Homo sapiens: one gene and its partners. The protein of the gene in region 4 purifies or fractionates together with the protein of the main gene of each other region. This does not show direct contact. Each region holds a gene or a part of one and is shown on either strand. Other genes may lie near its edges. The genes, in order: SERPINA12, BLK, H1-4 and GLYR1.

The links.
Region 1: the proteins of GLYR1 (region 4) and SERPINA12 purify together in Homo sapiens (affinity purification with mass spectrometry; 3 studies listed by BioGRID and IntAct, with this or other methods). This does not show direct contact.
Region 2: the proteins of GLYR1 (region 4) and BLK purify together in Homo sapiens (affinity purification with mass spectrometry; 2 studies listed by BioGRID and IntAct, with this or other methods). This does not show direct contact.
Region 3: the proteins of GLYR1 (region 4) and H1-4 purify together in Homo sapiens (affinity purification with mass spectrometry; 2 studies listed by BioGRID and IntAct, with this or other methods). This does not show direct contact.

Annotation. Positions count from the first base shown.
Region 1 is NC_000014.9:94,486,779-94,492,469, reverse strand, and holds the end of SERPINA12 (serpin A12 precursor), read left to right. Parts: intron 1-2,702; coding exon 2,703-2,850; intron 2,851-4,975; coding exon 4,976-5,167; 3' UTR 5,168-5,191; downstream 5,192-5,691. UniProt on the Homo sapiens protein: Adipokine that modulates insulin action by specifically inhibiting its target protease KLK7 in white adipose tissues.
Region 2 is NC_000008.11:11,497,345-11,504,386, forward strand, and holds part of BLK (tyrosine-protein kinase Blk), read left to right. Parts: intron 1-7,042. UniProt on the Homo sapiens protein: Non-receptor tyrosine kinase involved in B-lymphocyte development, differentiation and signaling. B-cell receptor (BCR) signaling requires a tight regulation of several protein tyrosine kinases and phosphatases, and associated coreceptors.
Region 3 is NC_000006.12:26,151,466-26,157,651, forward strand, and holds H1-4 (histone H1.4), read left to right. Parts: upstream 1-4,863; 5' UTR 4,864-4,925; coding exon 4,926-5,585; 3' UTR 5,586-5,650; downstream 5,651-6,186. UniProt on the Homo sapiens protein: Histone H1 protein binds to linker DNA between nucleosomes forming the macromolecular structure known as the chromatin fiber. Histones H1 are necessary for the condensation of nucleosome chains into higher-order structured fibers.
Region 4 is NC_000016.10:4,844,263-4,851,395, reverse strand, and holds the start of GLYR1 (cytokine-like nuclear factor N-PAC), read left to right. Parts: upstream 1-4,107; 5' UTR 4,108-4,130; coding exon 4,131-4,168; intron 4,169-5,185; coding exon 5,186-5,222; intron 5,223-6,242; coding exon 6,243-6,322; intron 6,323-7,133. UniProt on the Homo sapiens protein: Cytokine-like nuclear factor with chromatin gene reader activity involved in chromatin modification and regulation of gene expression. Acts as a nucleosome-destabilizing factor that is recruited to genes during transcriptional activation.

The DNA of each region.
Region 1 (5,691 bases), on a different chromosome or scaffold from region 4:
ATGCAAGAAGACAAAGCAGGTGTCTGCCTTCTGTGCAGGCAGGCCTGTATGGCTTGTGCTGGCCTGCAGGAAATCTCAATGCTATTATTTTTCCCAACATAAAAGCTTCTCTTGACCTCTGCTTTCCCCCAGTTATTCCTCCATTTCGTCACTCCCCCTTTGCAGGTGAATACCATGAAGCAGTTGCCTCTGTTCACAGCCCCTAGTTCCTCTCATCCTCTCCTAAATCCACTCCAGTCCAGCTTCTGCACCCACTTCTCACAGAAAGCTCCCTTCCCAGGGTCCCAAGGGTGTCTGTGTTGCAGAGTGCAGTCAGTCTCAGGCCTCGCTCTTCGGCTGGTTTCTGTCCCCACCTCCTTAAGGCACTCTTCATTTGGCTTCCAGCTCTCCACTCTCACATCACCTCCCACCTCTCCCCTCCTCAATCTCCTTTGCTGGAGACCCCTCTCCTCCTCCAGGTCTCAGAGGTGAGTGTCTCAGGGCTCAGTTCCCAGCCTTCTTTTCTGTCTATACTTACCCCTGAGTGAGCTCACAGGCTAAGAGCTTTAAACACCATCTCTATTACCACGACTGCCATGCTTCCATCCCCAGCCCCTGTTCTCCCCCAAATTCCAGAGTCGTGGATCTTTCTGTTTACCCAGAATGTCCCCAGGATGTGTAATTGGAGCTTAGTGTCAACACATCCAGAATGACTTCCTGATCTGTCCCCAGAGAACCTCCCCAAGCCTGCCCATCTCAATCAGTGGTGACTCCATCTTTTTAGTTGCTCAAGCCAAAAACCTTGGAGTCACCCTGACCACCCTCAAATGCCTCATTCAGTCTGTCAGGAAACTCCTTTAGCCTACAGCAAACCACATCTGGAATTTGGTATCTTTCCGCCGTCTCTGTGGCTCCCAACATGTGACTACCACACTAGCTTCCAAATGGTCTCCCAGCATCAATTTTTGCCCATCCCCACTACACACACCACCACCACCAAGAGTATATTCTTAACAGAGGCAACAGAATGATCCTTTTAAATCCTAAGCAAGACTATGTCACTCCTCTGTTCAAAACCCGACAGTGACTCCCCATTTTATTCAGGAAAAAAAACCCCAATTTGTCTAACTCTCTTGCCTGCCTCAAGGTTTGCTCAAACTTTGGACCAATCCTCGATTCCTGCAAGTCAATCTATTTATTTTTTTCCATAGCACTTACTGCCTTCTGCATACCGCTAGTACATGTATGTAGGCTTAAGTGGTACTTTTTGTTGTGTTGATTCTATCACCTGTCTTCCCTGCTAGAACACACAGTCAGGGGCAGGGATCTTTGCCTGCTCTGTTCATAGATGCATCTCCAGCACCTAGAACAGCACCTGGTATACAGTAGAGATTTAATAAATGTTTGTTGAGTGAATGAATGAGTGGAAAGGTAAATTTGGGAGTCGTTGGGCCTGTTGATGATATTCAAAGCTGTGAGACTGAATGACATGTATGGGGATGGAGTGAAGGTGGAAAAGAGAAGGGGACCAAGGTCTGAGCCTGGAAGCAGCAGTGTCACCGGTAGAGATGGGAGGGGTGGAGCCCGACAGGGGCAGGAGTGGTGGGGAAGGAGGAGAAGCCTCAAGGGGTGGACCTGGAATGCTTCACCTTGGAGAAAGGGATTACCATCACGTGCGGCTCACTGAGAGCTGGCTCTGGGACGTGGGGCTGGTTGTCAACGGTGACTCTGGAAAGAGTTGCTTCCATAAAAAGTTGAGGTCAAAGAGCCGACTGGAGTGGACTGAGGCAATTGTGGGAGGGAGTGGAGATAGCTGCTATAAAAGGAAGAAAAGAAATGAGCTGGAAGCTGGAGAGGCTATTCAGGGCCAAGAGAGATCTCTTGGTGTTAGTTTTTGAGGATAGGGTCACTCTAGCATGAGGCCTCCTCCAGAGGAGGATCAAAGGGGCACTGTTTAAGGATGATGCAGGAGAGAGAGGACACATAGGCAGGAATGAGATCCTTGGGTAGGTGGGAAAATAGGGTGCAAGGCCAGGTGAACGGGAATCCAGGGTCTGCAGGTACCTCAGGAGAGCCTGGGCCCCAGGCTCCGGGCAGGAGGCTGATCGCGGTTCAGCCACAGAGGATGTGAAGCTGCTAGTTGGAGGGCAGGAGGATGGGCACCTGCTACGCACCAACTGTCTGCTGAGTGCCTTGTCTGCATTTGCCTTAGCACCCCTAGTGTCCCGCAGGAGCGACGGTGATCATTTTCCTTCTCACACAAGTGACTTAGAGAGGGAAGGTCACAGAGCTCATGAGAGGCAGAGTGGATTTGAACTCAGTTCTGTCTACCTCCAGATTCTGGGTGCCTTGTTCCCTCCAGTGTCAGGTCTTCTGGGGTCAGGATGGGCTCAGGGCTCAGGCATGGCAGCGACTACAGTGTGGACATCATCAGTGACTGTGGCTGAAGGGGCTCTGAGACGGGGGAACTTGAGACTTGAGAACACTCCCTGTAGAGGGCTCTGGGGCAGGTGTGCTGGGAGGCAGGGACACGGTTCAGAGAGCTTATGGTGTTTTGAAACCAGGGTCCCAGGGTTAAGGAGCCCCTCCTCATTCTGTGGATGGAGAGAGATTGGAGACCTTTGGGGCTGGGAGGACACATGTTTCATTGGTCATGTATCCTGAGGCTTGCCCTGCAACACAACAGGACTTGACCACTCACCCTTGTCGTGTCAATTCCCCAGGGTCGTAGACGTGTCTGTACCCAGACTCCACATGACGGGCACCTTCGACCTGAAGAAGACTCTCTCCTACATAGGTGTCTCCAAAATCTTTGAGGAACATGGTGATCTCACCAAGATCGCCCCTCATCGCAGCCTGAAAGTGGGCGAGGTAAGCCTGCCTAGCCTGGACTCCACTCCCTGCAGCACAGGGGCCTTCCCCCAGCCGGGGCCAGAGCCAGGGTCACAGTGGCTGTCAGAGCCGAGACTCCACCCACCAGTCGGGGCGGGCATGAATGCAGCTGTGCCCCTTACCAACCCCGTGATCCTGGGCAAACCACATAACCTCCCCCAGCCTCATGCTTCCAGTCTTTAAAACTGCTGCTATTTTGGAAATCAATTCAATGTAGCAAACGTTGATCAAGGCCTGGAACAGTTATCAGGCCTAGAACTGGTCTAGGTCTAACCCAGACCCTCTCTCAAAGGCCACATCCGTCTTTCTTTCTTTCTTTTCTTTCTTTCTTTCTCTTTCTTTCTCTCTTTCTCTCTCTCTTTCTTTCCTCTTTCTCTCTCTCTTTCTCTCTTTCTTTCTTTTTCTTTCTCTGTCTCTCTCTCTCTTTTTTTCTTTCTTTCTTTCTTTCTCTCTCTCTCTCTCTCTTCCTTCCTTCCTTCCTTTCTTTCTTTTATTTTGTTTTTTGAAGGAGTCTTGCACTGTCACCCAGGCTGGAGTACAGTGGTGCGATCTCAGCTCACTGCAACCTCCACCTCCCAGGTTCAAGCAATTCTCCTGCCTCAGCCTCCCGAGTAGCTGGGATTACAGGCGCCCGCCACCATGCCCGGCTAATTTTTTTGTATTTTTAGTAGAGACAGGGTTTCACCATGTTGGCCAGGCTGGTCTCAAACTCCTGACCTCAGGTCATCCACCCACCTTGGCCTCCCAAAGTGCTGGGATTACAGGCGTGAGCCACCGCGCCCAAGGCCACATGTTTCATATGAGTTGGCATAAGCATATGCTGCATAGGAAGAGATGACCAAGCAAAGGGGCCTGTGGCCCCTGGCAAAGGTGAGCACCTGACTGTCTGGGGCAAGAAGAGAGCACCATATAGGTAGAGTCACCGGATTTAGCAGATTTCATACAGGATACCCAATTAAATTTGAATTTTAGATAAATGATGAATAATATTTTTAGTGCCAGTATGTTCAGAATATTTCACGGGACACACTTACACTAAAACATATTCATTGTTTATCTTGAATTCAAATTTCAGTGGATGTCCTGTATTTCACCTGGCAACCCTACTTTGGGGTTAAAAAGGCATTGAAGGAGGGGAAAGATTTCAACAAGCAGAGATGGGTGCGGGGATGGGTGCAGCAGTGTGGCCAAGGCTGGGGGTTTTTGGATATCATGGAGTAGTGGGTGGTGGGGATTGGGTGCTTAGTGGAGATAAAGTGGGAGGTTCAAGCCAGTCTGGGAAGGATCCAGCTTGCCAAGCTGAGCCCGCTGCTCTGAATCAGATGGCACAGATTCCACTGTATTTTTCACGTTGACATAAGAAACATAGTTACTAGAATTTTCTCACTTTTGAGCTTTCCTGCCACAGACTTCCCACAAACATTTAACACCAGCTCTGAAGGTCTTGTTGAGTTTAATGGCTCATTTCTTTCTGTAGTTACGTTTGCTGATAGCTGTGATTGTAACACAGGATACTGTCCTGTTTTCTGCAAGTAAAATTGTGAGAATTTTGTAGGCTAGCAAGAAATGTGCCAGGATTTCACACATGCCCGTTAGTTTCCCAGTACTGATCACCTGTTTACAGACGTTGATGCCTTTGGAGTGGATTTGGGATGCAAGTCATCTCAAAGAGCTAATCCAGAATCCTTCTCCCTCTTAACCATCCACCAGGTGGATGAAAGGAGGTGCTGGAGGCTTCAGGGTGGGGGTACCACCACCTCACTTTCACCCAGCTACAGCCCAGTAGACCTTTCTGCCACGGCTATGGTTGATGCTTCCCTGTAACCCATGAGAAAGAGAAGCAAACCCCACTCCATCTCTCCCCCCACCGACTCCCGTAACTGATGCTCCCCCTGCACCATCTTTTCCTTCACACGGCATCTGCTTGTCGAATATTCTCCAGCATTAATGGCGAAAGAGCCAGGAACCCTGGAGTAAACCAAGTTACTGCTGTGCTGGATGGCTTGGGCCAAGTGGTCTTCCTCTCTGATCCTCTCTGGGCCTCCGGCCCACTGTGGTCGCCAAGGAGCTTGGCAGACCTTGACTTTGCCCTTGGCTTCCGTAGGCTGTGCACAAGGCTGAGCTGAAGATGGATGAGAGGGGTACGGAAGGGGCCGCTGGCACCGGAGCACAGACTCTGCCCATGGAGACACCACTCGTCGTCAAGATAGACAAACCCTATCTGCTGCTGATTTACAGCGAGAAAATACCTTCCGTGCTCTTCCTGGGAAAGATTGTTAACCCTATTGGAAAATAAAGGAGAATTCCTGCTTGCCACAGACCCCGAACATGGCTTGGGGTTGAACATGTTCCATCTTCCTGAGATGGAAGTCACAGGCACATTTCAGTTTAGTCTCTCCCTGTCACCACCTCCCTAGACAGCCCGAATGAGCAAAACTGCAAGTTCTAGAAGTCCTGTGCCCCATTTCCTCCCTGCCCATTCAAATGCTGGGATGCAATGCCCCACCCCCGCCCACTTGGTGGCATTCTCCTCTCCCCTCCAGCGGGCAGAGGGACTCTGTGATTTAGTAAACAAATGTTTCTCCCCCACAGCCCTGCCCCAGGTTGACTGGCTGTTGGTGGATAATTTGGGGAAGGTATGGGCCACAGCAAGTACCTGGGGTCTCGAGTGAGAGACTGGGGTTCAAATCCTGGAATGAGGTATCTTTGGGAAAGCCACAAACCCTCTCTGAGTCTGTCTTCTTATTTCTGAAGTGAAGGTCCCGCCCCTCCCTTTGGGGCTCCAAGGAAGCTAGTTCAGTGCTTTAACAAAGTCGGTCC
Region 2 (7,042 bases), on a different chromosome or scaffold from region 4:
GCTCCTGCTTGCCTGAATCCCTTCCCCACCTTCCCACCTAGGCAACTTGCATTTGCTCTGACGTCCAGGGCAGGTGCGAATGTCTCCTCCCAGTCACAGTGCCCAAGCCCATTTGTGTGTCCCCAGCAACCACCAGCACACACCCAGGGCTCTGGTTTGCAGGCCTGCCAGGTTCTCTGGACCAAAGCTCCTGAGGACAAGGACATGCCCTACATGTGCCTCCAGGTCCCAGCACCCAGCGCAGTGCCTGGCCCACCAGGGGTATCTGGTAAAGTGGTTCTTGAGTTAAAGACACAAGGGCAAAACCTTAAATGAAAATCAAGGTTAAGACATGAGGATGAAAGCTTGAAAGAGGAAAAGCAAAGATAATTGAATGATCATCCCTAATCGTGGTGCACCCCAGTGCCATCAGCATGCTGGGGTTTTGACAGGACCCTTGGAAGAAAGAGAAGAGGCATCTGAGGCCTCTGGCACATTCCACTTCCTGTAAGACAGTGTGGTATAGATGAAAGCATTGGGGCTTCCTGCCAGCCAGGTCAGTCTGGCTCTGCACCTGCCAGCTGGGAGTGTGAAGTGGGAGCAGTTGCACCCACTCTCAAGCACAGACATGAGAACTGAACAGAACCACGGAATGGGGGTCCAGAGCCCAAGACATAGACGAGGCTCCTCCTTGTCCACTGTGGGGCTTGTGCAACCCCTTCATCAAAGCGCTGGTGCTTTCCACATTGTAATCAAGGAAGTTTTCTCACGTTCCTTCTCATCACAACTAGCTGCTGGCCTTTTTGCACACTTTGGCACCTAGGATGCTGAACCTGGACCAGTGGGAGGCAAACAAGACACACCTGGGATGCAAAATGTAAGGAGGCTCCCATGCTCAGGTCGTTCAAGTGCAGGAAAAGTTTGTGTATGTGTGAAACGCACAATGCCATGTGGTGTCTATAAGGGCATTTGAGGTTCTGTGCTTAATAGATGAAGTGGGTTCTGAGCATTGAGTCTGTGGATTCCTGATGAGTTTCCTGGTGCTCTGAGCTCCGTGAACTTGTAAACAAGCTTTTGTGTAGGTGGGTACTTACAGTTTTTGTCAGATTCCCAAAGGGGTCTGTGAACCCCAAAATATTTGGAATCACACAGTCAAATATCTAGGAAGACTACTTTAATTTTCTCTCTCAGCGTGTTGTGGATATGAGGAAGTGGAAAGGACTTGGACATAGAAGTCAGACAAAGCAGCCACATCTGAGTGGTCTCGTCCTGCAGTGTAGTGGTTAGACGGCTGGCCTTGTCAACCAGAGGGCTCCAGTGCAAGGTTCAGCCCTGGCAATGTGAGCAAGTCACTGTGTGCCTTCCTGAGATGATAATAGTTTGACCCCACTGTATACGAGCAGCCTTACCTGTCTCGGGTAGGTTAATTATATCCTCTCAGTCTTATTTCTTCATTCATTGATAATAGCACATCACAGGATTAACAGAATTAAATTACAAAGCCCTAATTTTTAGGTGAGTTGAAGCTGAGGAGCACACAACTTTTCTTACAGGGTGCACTCAATTCTCAATGTCAGAACCACCAGGGGGTCCTTGTACTTCAAAAAGACACATCTTACATGACAACTTCTTTGATTTACTTTTATGCCCAATATTCATTTTGAAACCTCACAAAGGAGAGCATGGTGTTGTTGTTTCTCAAAAGAGAAAGTAAATTTAGTAAGATTGAGAGCCATGAACCTAGACACAGTCACAGGGCACATAAGATTTCGGTCAATCACAGACTACATATATGATGGTGGTCTCATAAGATGAAGACACTGTATTTTGCCTGTACCTGTTCTATGTTTAGAGACACAAATATTCACCACTGTGTTACTACTGCCTGCAGTATTTAGTACAGTCGCAGGCTGTGTAGGTGTGTAGCCTAGAAGCAACCGGCTATGCCACAGAGCCTAGGGGTGGAGTAGGCTCTACCATCTAAGTTTTGTATACGATGTTCGCAGAACAACAAAATCACCTAATGACACATTTTTCAGAACAGATCCCTGTAGTGAAGCAATACGTAACTATATTTTGGGAACTTCCCCTGTATCCAGATAGTCAGTCCAAGAGCTGTGTGTTTGGATCTCACAGTGCTTGAGATCCTGAGAGAATCTCATTTCCTGAGTCAGATGTGGGCATTCTTTCTTGGCATGGGTACACTGCCGTGGCTTGTGCTGAAGGCTGCATAAGAAACAGAGGTTGGAAACTCACAGTGGAATTTATTGCTGAGATGACGTTAAGCTGTTCGCATTCCACCCAGGACCTCCACAGGAGAAGCCCAGAGAGGATGACTCTCAGACTCCAGATCCAGGAAATCCATGCCTCTCTGGAGCAATGGATGTCTTACAGACACTGTGACTCTTCAAACTGATTATTTTCTTCTTTGTGCTTGGACTCCAGGACACTTAGAACCCAATTTGCATCTAACCACTAGCAGTTTGGTGACAGCATGTCACAGTTTGTATTTCTGTGCACCAGCTTTATACACATTTTTTTTTCTGCCCTAACTTACCCTTTGGTCTAATTTCTTTATCTGTTTTTCTATCCTGTTGTATTGTATGTATTTTTATAAGCGGTCTCAAATCTTTTCTGGAAACACTAGGAAATGAATATATAAACAAATACAAGCAGGACAGCATTTCTGAAAGAGCCTGATATACAGTGAGGGTGCTCACTAAGGATTAGTTCCCTATCTGTGTACAAAACAGAAAAATTCACTGAGGGAGCCAACCTGCAGTCAAATGTCCAGCTGTGAGTCTATTACAGTTATAGAAATAGCTTATTTTTACACATATTCCACCTTAGATTGATTTGGGGGGTGTTTGTTTTTGTTGTTGTTGTTTGAGACAAGGTCTCACTCTGTTGCCCAGGCTGGAGTGCAATGGTTTGATCTCAGCTCACTACATCCTCCGCCTCCCGGGTTCAAGCAACTCTCCCACCTCAGCCTCCCGAGTAGCTAGGACTACAGGTGTGCACCACCACGCCCTGCTAATTTTTGTATTTTTTTGATAGAGACAGGGTTTCATCATGTTGGCCAGGCTGGTCTCAAACTCTGGACCTCAAGTGATCTGCCTGCCTTGGCCTCCCAAAGTGTTGGGATTACAAGCATAAACCACTGCACCTGGCCTGTTTTTTTGTTTTGTTTTATTTTGTTTTTGTTTGTTTGAGATAGGGTCTCGCTCTGCCTCCCAGGCTGGAGTGCAGTGGTGTAATCATGGCTCACTGCAGCCTCCACTTCCCCAGCTCAGGCAATCCTCCCACCTCAGCCTCCCAAGTAGTTGGGACCACAGGTGTGCACCACCACGCCTGGCTAATTTTGGTTTTTGTAGAGATGGGTTTTTACCATGTTGTCTAGGCTGGTCTCAACCTCCTGAGCTCAAGCAATCTGCCTGCCTCAGCCTCCCAAAGTGCTGGGATTACAGGCATGAGTGACCATGCCTGGCTCTACCTTTTATGTTAAAGTTTATATAAATTATTTCATTTTAAGATTCTTTTATTCCTGCCATTTCTGTGGTGCAATTGGATTTTTACATAAAGTTAAATAATACTTTTTATTTTGGCCAGGCGTGGTGGCTCACACCTGTAATCCCAGCACTTTGGGAGGCCAAGGTGGGAGGATTGCTTGAGGTCAGGGGTTCGAGACCAGCCTGGCCAACATGGTGAAACCCCATCTCTACCAAAAATACAAAAATTAGCTGGGCATGGTGGCAGGCACCTGTAATCCCAGCTACTCAGAAGGCTGAGGCAGGAGAATTGCTTGAACCCAGGAGATCTCAGCAGTGAGCTGAGACTGCCGCTGCACTCCAGCTTGGACGACAGAGTGAAAAAAATTAAAAATTAAATGATACTTTTAATTTTATTTACTATTTTATTTGAATAAATAAAAGGATCCTTTAAAAAGTATTACACACGAAAATAGGGTCAAAAGTCATAGCCCATTTTCTTGATTTTATTTGGTGCTTTATGGGAAAGGCTAAACTCTCTCTCTTTTTTTTTTTTTTAACACATTAGCATGGAAAGGAATCATTTCTACTTTGTGGTGTCTGTCTGTCTGTCTATCTGATGGGCTCTCTGGCACCTGCCAGCACACTGGGGGAAGTGTGAGGTCAAGATAGGCATCTTGTAGATGAAGAGCATGGCGTCCTGGTAAACGTTTAACAACCAGCTTTCCAGGAAACAAATGTATTGTATACATACATAAGTTTATAGTAACATGTACTGATATAAAGGATGCGTAGCACTTAATTTACAAATAATAACAAAATATGCAATAGTCTCTGTCCTAAATACCGCAGAGGTGATTGAGTCTCATAGAAAGCTCTCGTGACTTTGCACTGTCATATCCGTAGCCAAGCATTGGTTGCAGCAGATGAGCAAGTGTGGTGTTGGCACAAACACTGAAATGTTCATTCATGTTAAGGAGCAGATCAAAGTGAAACAACAAAGAGTTGGGGCAGGCTGCAGCCTTAGTGCCATGAGCGGCTTCTTTGTTGAACTGGGTAGTAGTTTTTCAATATTCAGAAAAGTTTCCTCAATGTTTTGTGCTACTCACAGTGTTCTAGCTACAGACAAGATGCTCTTTTAAGCATAGAAAATCCATGAAACAAATCACTGCCGACCTGTAGCATTTGCCTGTTCCTGTTGTATAAATACTCCCACCAGGGCCAATTTCAAGTTGCTAACATGACTTGCGTGAACATGGGTTCGAGATGCGCAGCAGCACAGCACGATAGAGTACTTCCGCCTTATAGACACAGTCAGTTAAAGAACCTCAAAGCATAGCTATTATTAAGATGCAGTAAAAATAATCAGGAAGTGATGAGGTTTAAGTATTTATAACCTTTGTTTTAATAGAATCCATTTAGTTGTATCTTGTATAATTCAACTTTAATTTTTTATCATTTTAATTTTATATAGTTTTTTTTTCTTTTTCTTTCTTTTTTATTTTTCTTTGAGAAGGAGTCTTACTCTGTTGCCCAGGCTGCAGTGCAGTGGCACGATCTCTGGTCACTGCAACTTCCACCTCCTGGGTTTAAGGGATTCTCCTGCCTCATCCTCCCAATTAGCTGGGATTACAGGCACCCGCCACCATGCCTGGCTAATTTTTGTATTTTAAGTAGAGTTAGCCAGGCTGGTCTTGAACTCCTGACCTCAAGTGATCTGCCCAGTTCGGCCTCCCAAACTGCTGGGATTACAGACATGAGCCACCACGCCCGGCCCGTATAGTTTTTATACCTTAATCTTGCATAATGATTTGAATAATTCAGCTCACAAAATTCCTGAGAATTTAACAACCGGCTCTAGCATACCGGCACAAGCTGGCCCCCAGTGCATCACTGACGGGGAGGCCGAGTGTCTTGAGGCCACACTGCAGATCAGGGTCCTGCCTGCAGCCAAGTGGGGACAAGTGGAGAATAACTTGCCTCCTGGGCTCTCCTGAGTCCCGAGCCTGACAGCGGAGGCCCAGGTGGGTGACCCTGCTTTGTGCTCGGTGGCAGGGGAAGGGGGGTGGGCCTGTGGGCCTGGATGGAGAACCTGTCCCCATGGCTGTCATGTCCCTACACCAGCTGCTGCCAGCCACTGTGGGGTTCGCAAGTCCCCACTCGCAAAACGGCTACTGTTTTCCACAACCATGGGATACAAGGATGTCCCCTTGGGCTCCTTCTCATCTCTACTCTCTGCTGGCCTCTTTGCACAGATTGATACCTGGGATGCTGAGCCAGGACCAGAGGGAGGTAAAGACACACCTGGGGTGCAAAACTGAAGGAGGCCCTGATGCTTGAGGTTGTTCAAGTGCAGAGAATGTTTGTGTATGTGTGAAGCACACAACCACACGTAGCATCTAAAAGGACATTTGATGTTCTGCACTTAATAGATTAAGCTGGTTCTGACCTTCTAGCCCCTGGGCTTCTGATGAGTCTCCTGGTAGCCTGTCAGCTCCTGATCTTGGATGGGAGCTTGTGTGTAGGTGGGCACTCTTCTGCAAAGTGCGTTTATGGCTTTTATCTGGTTTCCTCTGATCAGAAAGATCTGGGGGTGCTGGCACACCCAGACGACTAGTAACTCCCAAAGGGAGAGGTGCAGCTTTGTCACCTGCCCCTGTGTCAGGTGGGACGTGAGATGCTCTATTTTTTTCTGCTCCATCCTGTGCCCAAGCCTTATACAGGGTGACCCTTTTCAGAGAGGCCTTTGCCACCAGGTCAGTGTGAGCATGTGGCTGGGTGATTTCCTGCCGTGGACCAGGGATCTGTGTGCTGTCTGAAGTAAGCAAGGGTGCTCTTTCTTGGCAAGGTCTGAGGGCTGAGACTTGCAAGGAGACACCTGCTCTCTTGGTCACCAGACTGGAGGTTCCTATGTGCAGGTGTGGAGGATGGAAGAGGTCACTCTGTCCTCTTTCTTGCCTGGGCCTCACCTCTGCTGAGGCTGCTGGCTGCCCTGGGCTCGCAGTGAAAGGGGCCATCTTCCACCCTCCCCTGCTGGTCAAGTGCATCTTTCCAGGTTCCGGCACTCCACGTTGCCACCCAGACAAGTGTCCTGTGGGAACTAGCAAGTGGGAATCAAAACTACCCCCAGAGAGGCTCCTGGCCGGGAGATGAAGGGATCTACCCTGGGGCTAAAGTCTCCCCAGCCTTTCTTGGAGCTTAGGTCCTGGCTTTAGAAAGATCCCATTCACATCCAGGCACAGTGGCACACACCTGTAATCTCAGTACTTTGGGAGGCCGAGGCAGGCGGATCACTTGAGGTCAGGAGTTTGAGACTGGTCTGGCCAACATGGCGAAACTGTCTCTACTCAAAATGCAAAAATTAGCTGGGTGTGGTGGTGTGCGACTGTAATCCCAGCTACTCAGGAGGCTGAGGTAGGAGAATTGCTTGAACCCAAGGAGGCAAAGGTTGCAGTGAGCTGAGATCGCACCATTGCACTCCAGCTTGAGCAACAGAGCGAGATTCCATCTCAAAATAAAGAAAGGAAGGGAGGAAGGAAGGAAGGAAGGAAGGAAGAAAGAAAAGAAAAGAAAAG
Region 3 (6,186 bases), on a different chromosome or scaffold from region 4:
TCTTTTGCACAAATGAATAGAAAATTGTCTGTTTTCTTATACTCCCTTCTTTCTCAGCAAAGGTCATTATATTAAGTATATTCTTTTGGACTTTGCCTTATCACTTAAATGTATATCCTGGAATTGATACTAGTTCATAGAGATCTTAGTCATTTTTGTAGCTGCATATTACTGCACTGTGTAAATGCATCCTACTTTATCCAACCACTCTCTTATGTGGGGCATTAAAGTTTTTTGAAATATTTTATAATTCCAAACATTGCTGTGATGAATAACCATGGGTGTGCAAACCACAGTGTTAATTATTGACTTAAGTAAAAAGGAAACAATGTTGAAGATACTATATAGTCCATCTGTCTAGCATAAAGCACCTCTTTTCCAAACTCTATCTTTAATGAAACAATCATGGTAACATCATATTAAAATACAGAAATTCAGAATTAAGCTCTTTGACTGCAGAACTGTGAGGTAAAAGCAACCAAGCACAATCTTCTCTTTTATTTCAACTTTTCTGCAAATCACATTGTTCCCCTTAGTTCATAGTCATATTTGTAGCTGCATATTACTGCTATCATGTCCAAAATAAAAACAATTAGAGTGTCCCCCATTTTCCACCACTCAGGGTACCTTAGAGACTTTAAAAATGTCAATGATATCAAATTACTTTCTTAGCTCATTAAAGAATAACATACTTGATAATATTTTATGACTATAAAAGCTCAAGAAATTGCACAAGGAAGACATACTGTGGACATGTGAACAGGCACAGTAGAAATGTCTTTTACTAAGGGGCCTAACACACCAAGATTTGTGTATATAACTAAAACTACATGCAACGAAAACTGGTATTTTATATTCTATTCTATTTCACTAAAAAGAGAAATATTTTGTCCTTGACAACTAAACTGATTTCACAACTTTTCATGCTTGTTCAGACCTGTAGTTTGAGAAAACACTGTTTAATAAGCATACATGCTTTGAAGTAAAACCAACGTGTGCTGGAATCTGCAATGTACCTCTTACCAACAGTTTTCTCAAGAGAACTTGTTAACCTCTGCATGTCCATTTCCTACTTTGTAAAGTAGAAATACTATCCATAACAGAGGATTGTTACACTGACTAAGTAAGAATGCAGGTAACTCAGGCTGCAGCCCAGTTGTGGGGGAAAAAAAATTTCAGATAGCATGTAGTACAGTAGCCAACAAATGGGAAGGATGACTATCATTAAAAATGATAAAATGGATAAGGAATGTAGATGCTGTACTAGAGGATTCAAGTAGTCCATAAGCAGCCAAGGTTCAGTCTACCTTCTGTGGTTGGAAAATAATGACTCATTGGATGCTTAACTTTAGTTACTCTCCTTTCTCCTTCTTCAGCCCACTATAGTGGCCAGCCAGGTGTGAATCAAAGGAAGTCAAGATTGGACTAATGCTGTCCCCGTCTTTCCAATATATGGTCATATTCAGCATGGATATCTTTTCTAAGATCTCACAGACACGCCCAGAAATCCCTGGGAGAACTCACGTGACAGGAAGCACATTTGCCCTATTGGTCATCTCTAGTGAGTTCAGCAGAGTTGCCAAACTTGGCTCGGCATAAGAGTGGCATGAGAAAACTGATAAATATTCAGATTCTGAGGACCTACTGAAGAGTTATTATGTCAGAATAATCTTGAGCAAGGCCTCAGAATCTATGTTTAAAACACATGCATGACTGGGTGGTTCATACCTGTAATCCCAGCAGTTTGGGAGGCCGAGGCGGGTGGATCACCTGATATCAGGAGTTGGAGACCAGCCTGACCAACATGGTGAAACCCTGTCTCTACTAAAAATACAAAAATTAGCTGGGTGTGGTGGCGGGCACCTGTAATCCCAGCTACTTGGGCGGCTGAGACAGGAGAATCGCTTGAACCCGGGAAGTGGACTTTGCAGTGAGCAGAAATCGCTCCATTGATTGCACTCTAGCCTCGGTGACAAGAGCGAAACTCCATCTCAAAAAAATAATAACAAAATAAAAAATAGAACACATGCATGAACATGTGTGTGTGCACACACGCCTAGTTCTGAGATAGCCAGCCCGCTGACCAATAAGAAAGTAAGGCCTTTTGTTATTGTTCCTATTTCATCACCGACAAGTGTCAAATAGATGCTTGATTTCATAGTGGTCAATCCTCAATCTCTGTCACCAAGGCTCGAGAGCACGTTCACTGCAACCTCCGCCTTCCTGGTTCAAGGGCTTTTCCTGCCTCAGCCTCCCGAGTAGCTGGGATTACACCACCACACCTAACTATTATTATTATTATTATTATTATTATTATTATTATTTTATTTTAGCAGAGATGGGGTTTCACCTTGTTGGTCAGGCTGGCCTCGGACTCCTGATCTCAAGTCATCCATTCGCCTCAGCATCTCAAAGTGCTAGGATTACCGGCGTGAGCCACCTCTCCCAGCCCATGCATTTGGAGGCAGAGGCAGTGGTTGCAGTGAACCAAGATCGCGCCATTGCACTCCAGCCTGGGTGACACAGTGAGACTCTGTCTCAAAAAAAGAAAAGAAAAGTAAAGTAAAGAAAACACACCACACCTTAAGGAGGCAAGCAGTGGAAGTTGAAAGACCACAGAATTTGGAGAGTTTAACTCCTTCCTAGCCATGAGGAATACACTGGATAAAGTGAGGCATGTGAAAGCAAACTTCCATGTGTTGTGTAAGTTTCAGTCATTTACAGGAGTGGTTTTTGTTGTCATTAAATAGGTATAATATTACCATTCTGGAATCAAATGCCCATATAATCAGTTTCCCTAGTCTGTTTTGGAGATTTATCCATCTCCCTTTTTATTTCAATAAATACCAAAGGGCATATTTATTTTTGCACTGATGTGCAATAATTAGATTGAAAATACACATCAAGATATTAAAAACATTGATAATTTACATCACTTTTATAACAAATTCAACATTAAACAGTACTGTTTTGATACATTTCACTCGTGTTATATCAAAATTCTATATTCTCCTTATTTCAGTAGCAGAATTTGTGTCTGGAGATTTTGGGCAATGAAATTAAAATTTAAAATGATATCCAACGCCATATTACAATCAACCACGTCCACAGAACAGTATCATATCACCTTATAGCACTGGGCAAAATTTTATTTTGTTTCCATGATAAGTGGCTTGTAGTTCCACCCATACTGTTCCAGCCATATCGTTTTTCAGAAAAAATTCTTTTTTTTTTTTTTTTTGAGACGGAGTCTTGCTCTTTCGCCTAGGCCTGACTGCAGTGGCACTATCTAGGCTCACTGCAAGCTCCGCCTCCCGGGTTCACGCCATTCTCCTGCCTCAGTCTCCCGAGTAGCTGGGACTGCAGGCGCCCGCCACCGCACCCGGCTAATTTTTTGTACTTTTAGTAGATACAGGGTTTCACCGTGTTAGCCAGGATGGTCTTGATCTCCTGACCTCGTGATCCGCCCGTCTCGGCCTCCCAAAGTGCTGGGATTACAGGCGTGAGCCACCGCGCCCGGACCAGAAATAATTCTTTTGGTTGGGCTTTCATTGCCAGCTTACATACACTCTTCTTGATTGGGCAACTACCTAAAGAAATTCACTCAGACATTGTTCAAAGGATGTTTTCAGAGGGCAATGATTTATAATAGCTTAGATAGACTCTCAAAGCTCTACTTCTGAGATCGAAATTTGAACTTGTCGTTTAATCACTACATGTCACTTATTTTTCTTTCTATTGAGCTCTGGGAAGCATTGGAATACAATCTTCAGGGGGATTGAAACCATACGTGGTGAGTGGACTAGTCATTCCTCAACTATTCAGTAATAATAGGGGCTGGGTTTCACTAATAATGGGAGTAGATGTTTCAATCTACGTTTCTTATTTATTTTGCCTTATCATCAATGCTTGAATTTCAGCTCTAAGCTACTTTATTGCAATTTGGTTCTGAAGCATATGCCAAAAGCACTCAGCAAGGCTGCAGACAAATGCTTTAAAGTAAAGTGCACCTCCACTTCCAGTGACTTTATGAACATCACATTTGAAAATTAATCCTTTTTCATCTCTGTACCCTGAGTACATTTTGGACTTCCCTTCGTTCCCAAATACCCTGAATTCAAGGTATCTCAATCCATGGAGCAATTGTCCAGAGGAAGAGAGAAGCAACAGCCCCGCCCCCAACCCTTGGGAGCAGAAAGGGAAAGAATTATCCAAAGAATTGTTTAAAAACTCAGATGTAGCGGACAGATGTAAAACCATGGCTGTATAGATTGATGTCCCAGGGGTCCAAAACTTAATCTCAAATGGGCAATAATTTGTTTGGCATTAAACTAAACCAGTTTGATGAACTCAAATGCCCTCGGCTCAATAGGCAGGACTCTCCGAGGAGCCTGTGTTACTTCCCTCACTTAAGTGCAGATTTGTAATAAAAATCTTAATGCCAGTGGCATGCTTTTTGGATATATAAGAAGCTAACCACTTGGAGTATCATATTTGAGAGGTCAGAAAAGTCCACAGTTAAAGATCGGTTTATAATTTACGAAGAAAATAGAAAGTTTTGTTTCTCTGAGTTGAAATTTGCCAAGCACGGCGGGAAATATTGCAAGTTTTTGGCACAAGGCTTTGTGCTTCCCTTATAATTTGAGATCTGCGTGAAGCCTGAGGGTTCGGGGATCATTATCTGAGAAAAACCGGGCAGTTCGGTGTAGACAATTTTTATATTTTTGGCTTTTTTTGAGGTGTAACAAACACAACTCGGGATCCGAGAGGACACTCTGCGGCTGCCAGCGAGGCGGGCTGGACAGCGCACCAATCACGGCGCAGCTCCGCCCTATATAAACGGGCGGGCGCAGCGCCGCGGCTCGAGTCCCGGCCAGTGCCTCTGCTTCCGGCTCGAATTGCTCTCGCTCACGCTTGCCTTCAACATGTCCGAGACTGCGCCTGCCGCGCCCGCTGCTCCGGCCCCTGCCGAGAAGACTCCCGTGAAGAAGAAGGCCCGCAAGTCTGCAGGTGCGGCCAAGCGCAAAGCGTCTGGGCCCCCGGTGTCCGAGCTCATTACTAAAGCTGTTGCCGCCTCCAAGGAGCGCAGCGGCGTATCTTTGGCCGCTCTCAAGAAAGCGCTGGCAGCCGCTGGCTATGACGTGGAGAAGAACAACAGCCGCATCAAGCTGGGTCTCAAGAGCCTGGTGAGCAAGGGCACCCTGGTGCAGACCAAGGGCACCGGCGCGTCGGGTTCCTTCAAACTCAACAAGAAGGCGGCCTCTGGGGAAGCCAAGCCTAAGGCTAAAAAGGCAGGCGCGGCCAAGGCCAAGAAGCCAGCAGGAGCGGCGAAGAAGCCCAAGAAGGCGACGGGGGCGGCCACCCCCAAGAAGAGCGCCAAGAAGACCCCAAAGAAGGCGAAGAAGCCGGCTGCAGCTGCTGGAGCCAAAAAAGCGAAAAGCCCGAAAAAGGCGAAAGCAGCCAAGCCAAAAAAGGCGCCCAAGAGCCCAGCGAAGGCCAAAGCAGTTAAACCCAAGGCGGCTAAACCAAAGACCGCCAAGCCCAAGGCAGCCAAGCCAAAGAAGGCGGCAGCCAAGAAAAAGTAGAAAGTTCCTTTGGCCAACTGCTTAGAAGCCCAACACAACCCAAAGGCTCTTTTCAGAGCCACCCACCGCTCTCAGTAAAAGAGCTGTTGCACTATTAGGGGGCGTGGCTCGGGAAAACGCTGCTAAGCAGGGGCGGGTCTCCCGGGAACAAAGTCGGGGAGAGGAGTGGGATTTTGTGTGTCTCCGGAGCTATTTTTGACTAAGGCGTCGCGTCGCCCAAGCCGGAGTGCAGTGGCGTCATCTCGATTTTGCGTTCTCGAGTGTCGGAGTTGAACCCATTTGGGCCTCCCTTGTGCTTTGCACTTTTAGCAGGCCCTGGCCTCCAGATAGCATGGGAAAAAAAATGTTGGGATTTTCCCGGGTTTCTAAGCTGGGTTTTTCCGAGTTCCAAACACGGCACAGTGTATCAGTTTCTGTGCTGGTTACAAGCCTACTGGTTATCCCTATCGAGTATGGCAGGCAGTGAGGGACTTCAGAGGAGTACGTCTTAGGACAAGTGGCATAGTACTGACATTATTTCCGAAGGGCTACATTTCAAGTGCTTGGGGAGACTACTGCCACATAACTGAAAATTAGAAACCGACACTGCAGAAAAATACTT
Region 4 (7,133 bases):
TCACTGAGGCCTCAACCTCCCAAGCTAAAGCGATCCTCCTACCTCAGCCTCCCTAGTAGTTGGAACTACAGGCGTGCTAATTTTTGTATTTTTTGTAGGGACGTTGTTTTGCCATGTTGCCCAGACTGGTTTTGAACTCCTGCTGGGATTACAGGTGTGAGCCACTGAGCCCAGCCTATATGGTCATTTATAGATATTTTTTCACATTTACTTCATTAACCCCAGATGAATTTGCTATGCTATAAAGTATGAGGAGAGGCTGTAACTTGGTTTCTTCCAGCATCAATCACTAAACAATCCTTCCTTCCTCTGCTGATTTGGCATATATTGCAAAGCAACATCACAGATATCTAAGGCCTGTTTCTGAAGTCCATGTGTCATATTAATACGGTATTTAGAGATTCTTTAATCAGTATTGCACTGTTTTGTAAAGTTTCATACTTTAATGTTGCAAAGTTAAAGCTCATGTTTATTATCCTTCTTTATAAATAATACTTTGCCATTCCAGCCTATGTATTATTTTGGCAGGTTTCAAAAAAACTCACTGTATTTTGGTTGTAAATCAATCACAAATGTGAGTTAATTCAGGAAAATTAGCATATATCGTATATATCCACATACATGTAGACGTATTTGTATATATCCAATATTCATTTGTCGAATTATGATCACAAAATCAACTTATAACATCACATAAGGGAACAAAATATCTACAAATGAAGAGTTAAAATAATTCTAATCAGGCGGCAAAACGATTAGCAGTGTAACAGGCTGGCGCTGCAAAAGACCATCTCCCAACACGTACTAAGATGTTAAAGGAGATTTCCCTAAAAGAAATCTCCAAGGCCCTCAGGATATTTGTGATGCGCTGGGTTGTGGAAATAAATCCCAGCTGAAGGCTTACAGATTCCCCCACTGATAGAACCGGAACAGTCTCACTATAAGAAGGGAATCAGCAAGTTAACCAATGGGATGCAGGAAGGTCATCCTTGAATTGGCAACCAGGTCCTACTCCCCCTGTCCAGGCAGTAAACACATAACCTTATCTCAGTCCAAGTCTGAGAGACTGCAGCTTCAATCCTAGATGGCAAAACTGCTCCTTTCAGTTGCTTAAGTGACTCTCCAGGCCCAAGAAGGTAAAAAATAGGACTACAGGATAAAGTGAGTCAAATCTGTACTCTATTACCACTTAGATTTGGGGTTGTTTTATAATCATTATAATGTTCTGCTGTTACTAAGCCATTTGAAACATTTAAGAGAATCCAATATATTTAACAATGGTACGTTAGACTTACAATCATAATTCAAAATGCTTAAGAAAATATAATTAAGTTCAAACATGTTTGAATGCTTAAAAAAAACTTACATTTATCTATTAGACTTACGAGAGTTGCCTAAGTCCTTGGAAAGATTTTAGCTTTTTTTGTGGTTTTTTTTTTTTTTTTTGTGAGACAGTTGCCTCACTCCTGTTGCCCAGGCTGGAGTGCAGTGGCACCATGAGAGCTCACTGCAGCCTCAACTTCCCGGACCCAGCACTTTGGGAGGCTAAGGCAGGATGATCGCTGGAGCCTAGGAGTTTAAGACCAGCCTGGACAACATGATGAGACTTCATCTGCACAAAAAAATTTTTTTTAAATTAGCCAGGTATGGTGGCACACCCCTGTAGTCTTGGCTACTAAGGAGGCTGAGGTGGGAGGATGGCTTTAGACTGGGAAGGTCCAGGCTGCAGTGAGCCGTGATCCTGCCACTGCACTCCAGCCTGGGCGACAAGAGTGAAACTCCGTCTCAAACAAAAAAAAGAAAAAAACAAAGATCCCCCTTTAAAAACCTCAGTTGGTGTTACTGAGAAAATACTAGCCTTCCTTGTCCCTTGGTTATCCTCAGCAATTTTTAATTTTTTCTTACTATATATATATATATCTCCTTCTAAACATTGTATTTTCAAACTGGTTATTGATGAAACAGAAAAACTAAATTGTGCATTCCAACTTATAATGAGTACCCTTCCTGAATTCTTATTTTAATGGGTTTTTTGGTTTTTGTTTTTGTTTTCAAAATAGGCAGACCTATCATCCACGGAAATGAGAATTCTGTCTTCCCTTTTCCAAAAATTGCATTTCTTATTTTTGTTTCCTGTCTTACTGCACTGGCTAGAACTTTCAGGTTTTAGGCAATATATTCTTATTATCTAATAGTGGTAGAAATGTACCATGTTTCTGATGTTAAGGGGAATGCCTCTAGGTTTTGGTGCAATGTTCATTTGAGATTTTTTTTTCTTTTTTCTTTTTGGCGGGGGGACGAGTCTCGCTCGCTCTGTCGCCTAGCTGGAGTGCAGTGACATAATCTCGGCTCACGGCAACCTCCGCTTCCCGGGTTAAGCGATTCTCCTGCCTCAGCCTCCCAAGTAGCTGGGACTACAGGCATGCGCCACCACGCCCGGCTAATTTTGTATTTTTAGTAGAGTACTGGGTTTGACCGTGTTGGCCAGGCTGGTCTCGAACTCCTGATCTCAGGTGGTCCACCCGCCTCGGCATCCCAAAATGCTGGGATTACAGGCTTATACCACCCTGCCCGGCCAAGATTCATGTTTTTATTTAAGTTATTAAAATCTCATTCAATTCCTCACAAATTCAGAATTTTTAAACAGGAACTTATGTTAAATTTTTATCAAATTATTCCCTGGAATCTTAAATACGCTTTAAAGATCACTTTGTCTTAAAAATACACACGCAGTAAATGACAGTCCGTGCAGCTAATTCTTGGTACTTCAGGGAAACTGATCTCCCAAGAAAAATCAGGCTGCGGGACGACCCAGTACGCTAAACACCGACTTGCAACCGAAATCTCTAACCACCACAATGCCTTGGGGAAATGCGTGTCGACTCGCCACCTTTGCCAGCTGGCAGTGACTCAACAAGAGCCCGACACCAAGTCTAAGTCAATCCTTAACACTGTGGAGTCTGTGATCGGGACTGGGATCTTTTGCAAAATTGTGATTCTACCTGGTCTGCTGAAGTTTGGGCCGACGCTGCGCTCAACTGCAGTTAACACTTCCCAGTTCATGGTTCAGTTTTAAAGTGTCCAAACTACGCCCGGCATCTGTCTTCCTGTTGTCACAACTTTTTCAAAAGTGCAAAACTAGGGCAAGGCTAACGAGAGAGCCCGGACCCGACAACGACACGCACCTTTGTCCCCAGCGCCGACGCGGGCCGCAGACGTCCCCCCGCGGCGGTCCTCATGCCGGTCCCCGGGCGGCGGCGCAGCTAGCGGTCGGCTGCTAAGCCGTGGCTCCCAGCGGGCGGGCGGCCCGCGCCTCGGCCCATGGCCGGGTCCCCGAGCCCAGGGGAGCCTGGTGTGCCGCGCCGCGCGCCGGCCCAGGAGGAAGCGAAGAAATGCCAACTCGACGTCCGCGCAGCCACTCCGGGGACACCAGGGGGTCGGGGGAGCAGCCTCCGGTCGCCCCAGGAGAACTTGCGGCGCGGGACCCCGCGCTCAGACGGCGCCTCCGAAAGCGGCCGTCGGGAGGAGCGCTCCAAAGAACACGGGCGGCGGGAGCGGACGGGCGCGGACACCGGGGCCTCCCGGCCTGCGGCCAAGCAGAGTTGCCGGGCGCGGGAGCCCAGACCCGGCGGAGGCTGAGTTCCAGGCCGCGCCGAGCTCCGTCAGGGTAGCTCACTGGCGCTGCGACGGGGCCGACCAGCGCCTCGGGCTCGGGAATGGCCCCGGGGCCCGCGCCGGACCAACGGGCGTAACGGAAGCGCCGAGAGGGGAGGGGCGCGGAGTCCAAGACCCGGGGGCGGGGCGAGCCGCGAGGCCGGCTCCCTCTCGCGCTCAGCCGGTCGCACCGTCGCCGCCGCCGCCGCCTCAGACCGCGGGCGCTTCGTTGTCACGAGCCGAAGGGAGGGGGAAGGAGCCGGGAGTCTCTGCGCTCCGGCGCGCGGAGACCGCGGCGCTCGCGTCACGTGCCCCTCGGTCGACCAATGATCCCCGGCGGGCGCGGTGACGTCAGAGTAGCGGCGTGGCCAGTGACAGCCGGCCCCCGTCACGTGGTCGGGCCCACTCCAATGGGCGGCGCCGGGGCGACTTGCTGTTCCCGGCGGCCCGTGCGTCGGCGGTGGTTGGGTGGTAAGATGGCGGCTGTGAGTCTGCGGCTCGGCGACTTGGTGTGGTGAGTCCGAGCGGCCGGGCCAACCGAGACGCGCCGGGGAGCTACCCGCCTGGGCGCGGGGTTCGCTGCCGGCCCTGGAGCTGCCTTTTTATGCGCTCCAGGTCGCGGAGAGAGGGGAAGAGAAGGTGCCGGCGCTTGCGAGCGGCGCCAGGCGGAAGGGGCAGTCCAGTCCCGGGGGACCGAGGCCGAGGGTGGCCACGTCGGGCACCGGCTTTGATCCCCGAGGCCGGCCGGGTGGGGTCTGCACTCGGGGCCCAGATACTGGCGGCCCCCGTGAAGGGAGCCGCCGGTGCCGCGAGGCTTCCCCGGACGACCGGTCCCCGGGGTCTTGTTGGGGCTTCCCAGAAAGCAGAAGCGCCGGGGACCGGACCTGCGAGATCTGGCCGGTGCCATTCGGTCAAAGCCCAGGTTGCGATGCAGCCGACCTGTGCGGCCGGCTCAGCCGGGGTTGTCTAAACCGGACTGCTGGCGTTGCCCCGCGAAGAAACGGCGGGGGGACTTCTCCTTTACAACCGATGGCTTGGCAGTGACCAGTGCACGCTTGGGTGCCTCCCGCGGTCTGCTTCTGTGTCCCAGACAACCGCCCGAACCAAGACTTTGTCGCCGCCTCCCTCGAGCTGCGTAGCTTGTTTCTCCACCCAGAGGAAGGCTTCCATTAGCATTTGTCAAAGCCAGGCAGGTCTCCTGTTGAATTAAACCAGACTTAGGGAGGGAAAGTCTGTGTTTACAGAGGAAGCTGTCCTCCCACCCCCGTCATTAAGAAGCTCTAGACAAGTGACTTTTGACAGTTGTGTTGTTCTGTATTCCTTGTCAACAGAAGAATGGATATGCGTTGTGCACATAAGTATACAATTTTGCATTTTACTTCTGAGGGTGTTGGGCCCAGCTATGAAAGCTTTTGTTTCGGCATTTGAGGATGCCAGCAGAGATTTAGGAAAATAAATTGCGTATTGAGTGGGTTGAAGGAGATGGACTGGCTTTTGCAGGGCAAGTGTTGACTCTTTGTGTTTTCTCTAGGGGGAAACTCGGCCGATATCCTCCTTGGCCAGGAAAGGTGAGTGTCTTGCTACTAAAGGAAGAGATCTGAAGTTGGGTTTGAAGAGGTGGAGAATGTAAGATGCATTCCTCTCAGTTTCTAGTATTGAGTTAAATTGGGCTCATTCAGATGGCACTTAGAATTTTTTTTCCCCTAGTATCGGTTATTTTTTAAAAGGCAATGCAGTATACACCAGATCATTAAATCTTCTCTAAACCCTTATTTCTGGATTTAGAGGAGGTTTATGAAGTTTCTTTTTTAACCCCGGAAATAATTCTAGTCTGAATTTAGCTTTATGCTTAAATGTAACAAAAGGAGAAGAAAATATAAATTATCCAGGAAGAAAGTCTAAATGTAGGTTAGTGAAAAGCCAAAGTATTTTTGTCCCAACTAAGTTTAAATCTTCTTTCCATGTTACCATATGTGCTACTCCAGTGCCTCTTTGCAGAAGTTGGCATTCCAGATTTTGCATGAGGTGATCCATCATTGCTTTCCAAATGTTGTGTTTTTATATTCTTGCTTGGAGCCCGGGAGGTGTCTTTAGATGGTCTCTTTGCAATATGGTGTTTTCTGTGCCTCGGTTGTCCTTTGTTTTCACTATGTCCTGTGTCAACCCTTCCTGCACAGGAAGTATTTCAAAGAGTGTCGTCTGCATTTTTTCAGTAATAATGGGGTCACATTGGAGCAGGGGTGGGGTGGTGGGGGGCAGGGGATGCTGTTGATCTTAGTTTTAACTGCTTGTAAAACAGGGCCACTGCAGTAAAAGGGATATTGTGTCTACTGAGCACTGTGCTACATGTTAAATATTGGGAACTTCTAGAATATCTACACATTTCCATACACCTCAATAGAAAAATGGGAGATTTAGACAAGTACTAGGCCTTGGGTTCTGTTTTGTATATAAATAAATTTATTTGTAAGTAAGTCCTTTTAATTTACTTTTTTCTTAGCAACGTAGAACTGTAGAGCAATGTGGAGCCACTAGAAAGTGGGCTGCTGTGTTGCCAGCCAACCTTTTTCCCCCCTTTTATCCTCCAGATTGTTAATCCACCAAAGGACTTGAAGAAACCTCGCGGAAAGAAATGCTTCTTTGTGAAATTTTTTGGAACAGAAGATCAGTGAGTAGTACTCACCAGGAGTCTCCCTTCGCCTTTCTTTCTGTGTTACCTGGAGTCTGAGCTGCTTTGAAAATATTCTAAGGATCCTTAGTTCAGTCTTCTTATAATGTGTAATACTGGCATCTCATTCTGCCTTCATACCTAAATAAAGGTGCAATTTCTTGCAGAAATTGCCCTAGACAACTGTCCTAGGTCTATAACTAAGTCAGGCAAGAACTAGGTTCATTTACCTTCTAACTATAACAATCACATTGAAACAGTTTCTCACATGTTTCTTTACCCAACTCCAAAGGCAGTTCCTTTTTGTTTGTTTTTGAGACAGAGACTTAGTCTGTCACCCAGCCTGGAGTGCAGAGGCAGTCTCAGTTCACCGCAACCTCTGCCTCACTGACTCAAGCGGTTCTCTCACCTCAGCCTCCCGAGTAGCTGGGACCACAGGTGTGCACCACCATGCCCAGCTAATTTTTTGTAGAGGGGGTTTTACCATGTTGCCCAGGATGTTCTTGAACTCCTGGACTCAAGCAATCCACCTGCCTTGGCCTCCCAAAGTGCTGGATTATAGGCGTGAGCCACTGCGCCCAGCTGGCAATTATTTTTATAAAAGCCATGTTCAGTTCTCTTTTAATGCCATATATCATTATGGTTCATGCTTGGGGTATACAGTGGAAACTTTTATTTATGTTAATAAAAGTAATTGTTCAATCATGTTCTCATGTGTAAAACTAAGTGATTTGCTTTGACATTGTTATAGTAAGTCTTTTTACCAGATCTGTCCTAAGTTGGGGAAACCAGGACCATTAATCTGAGACTC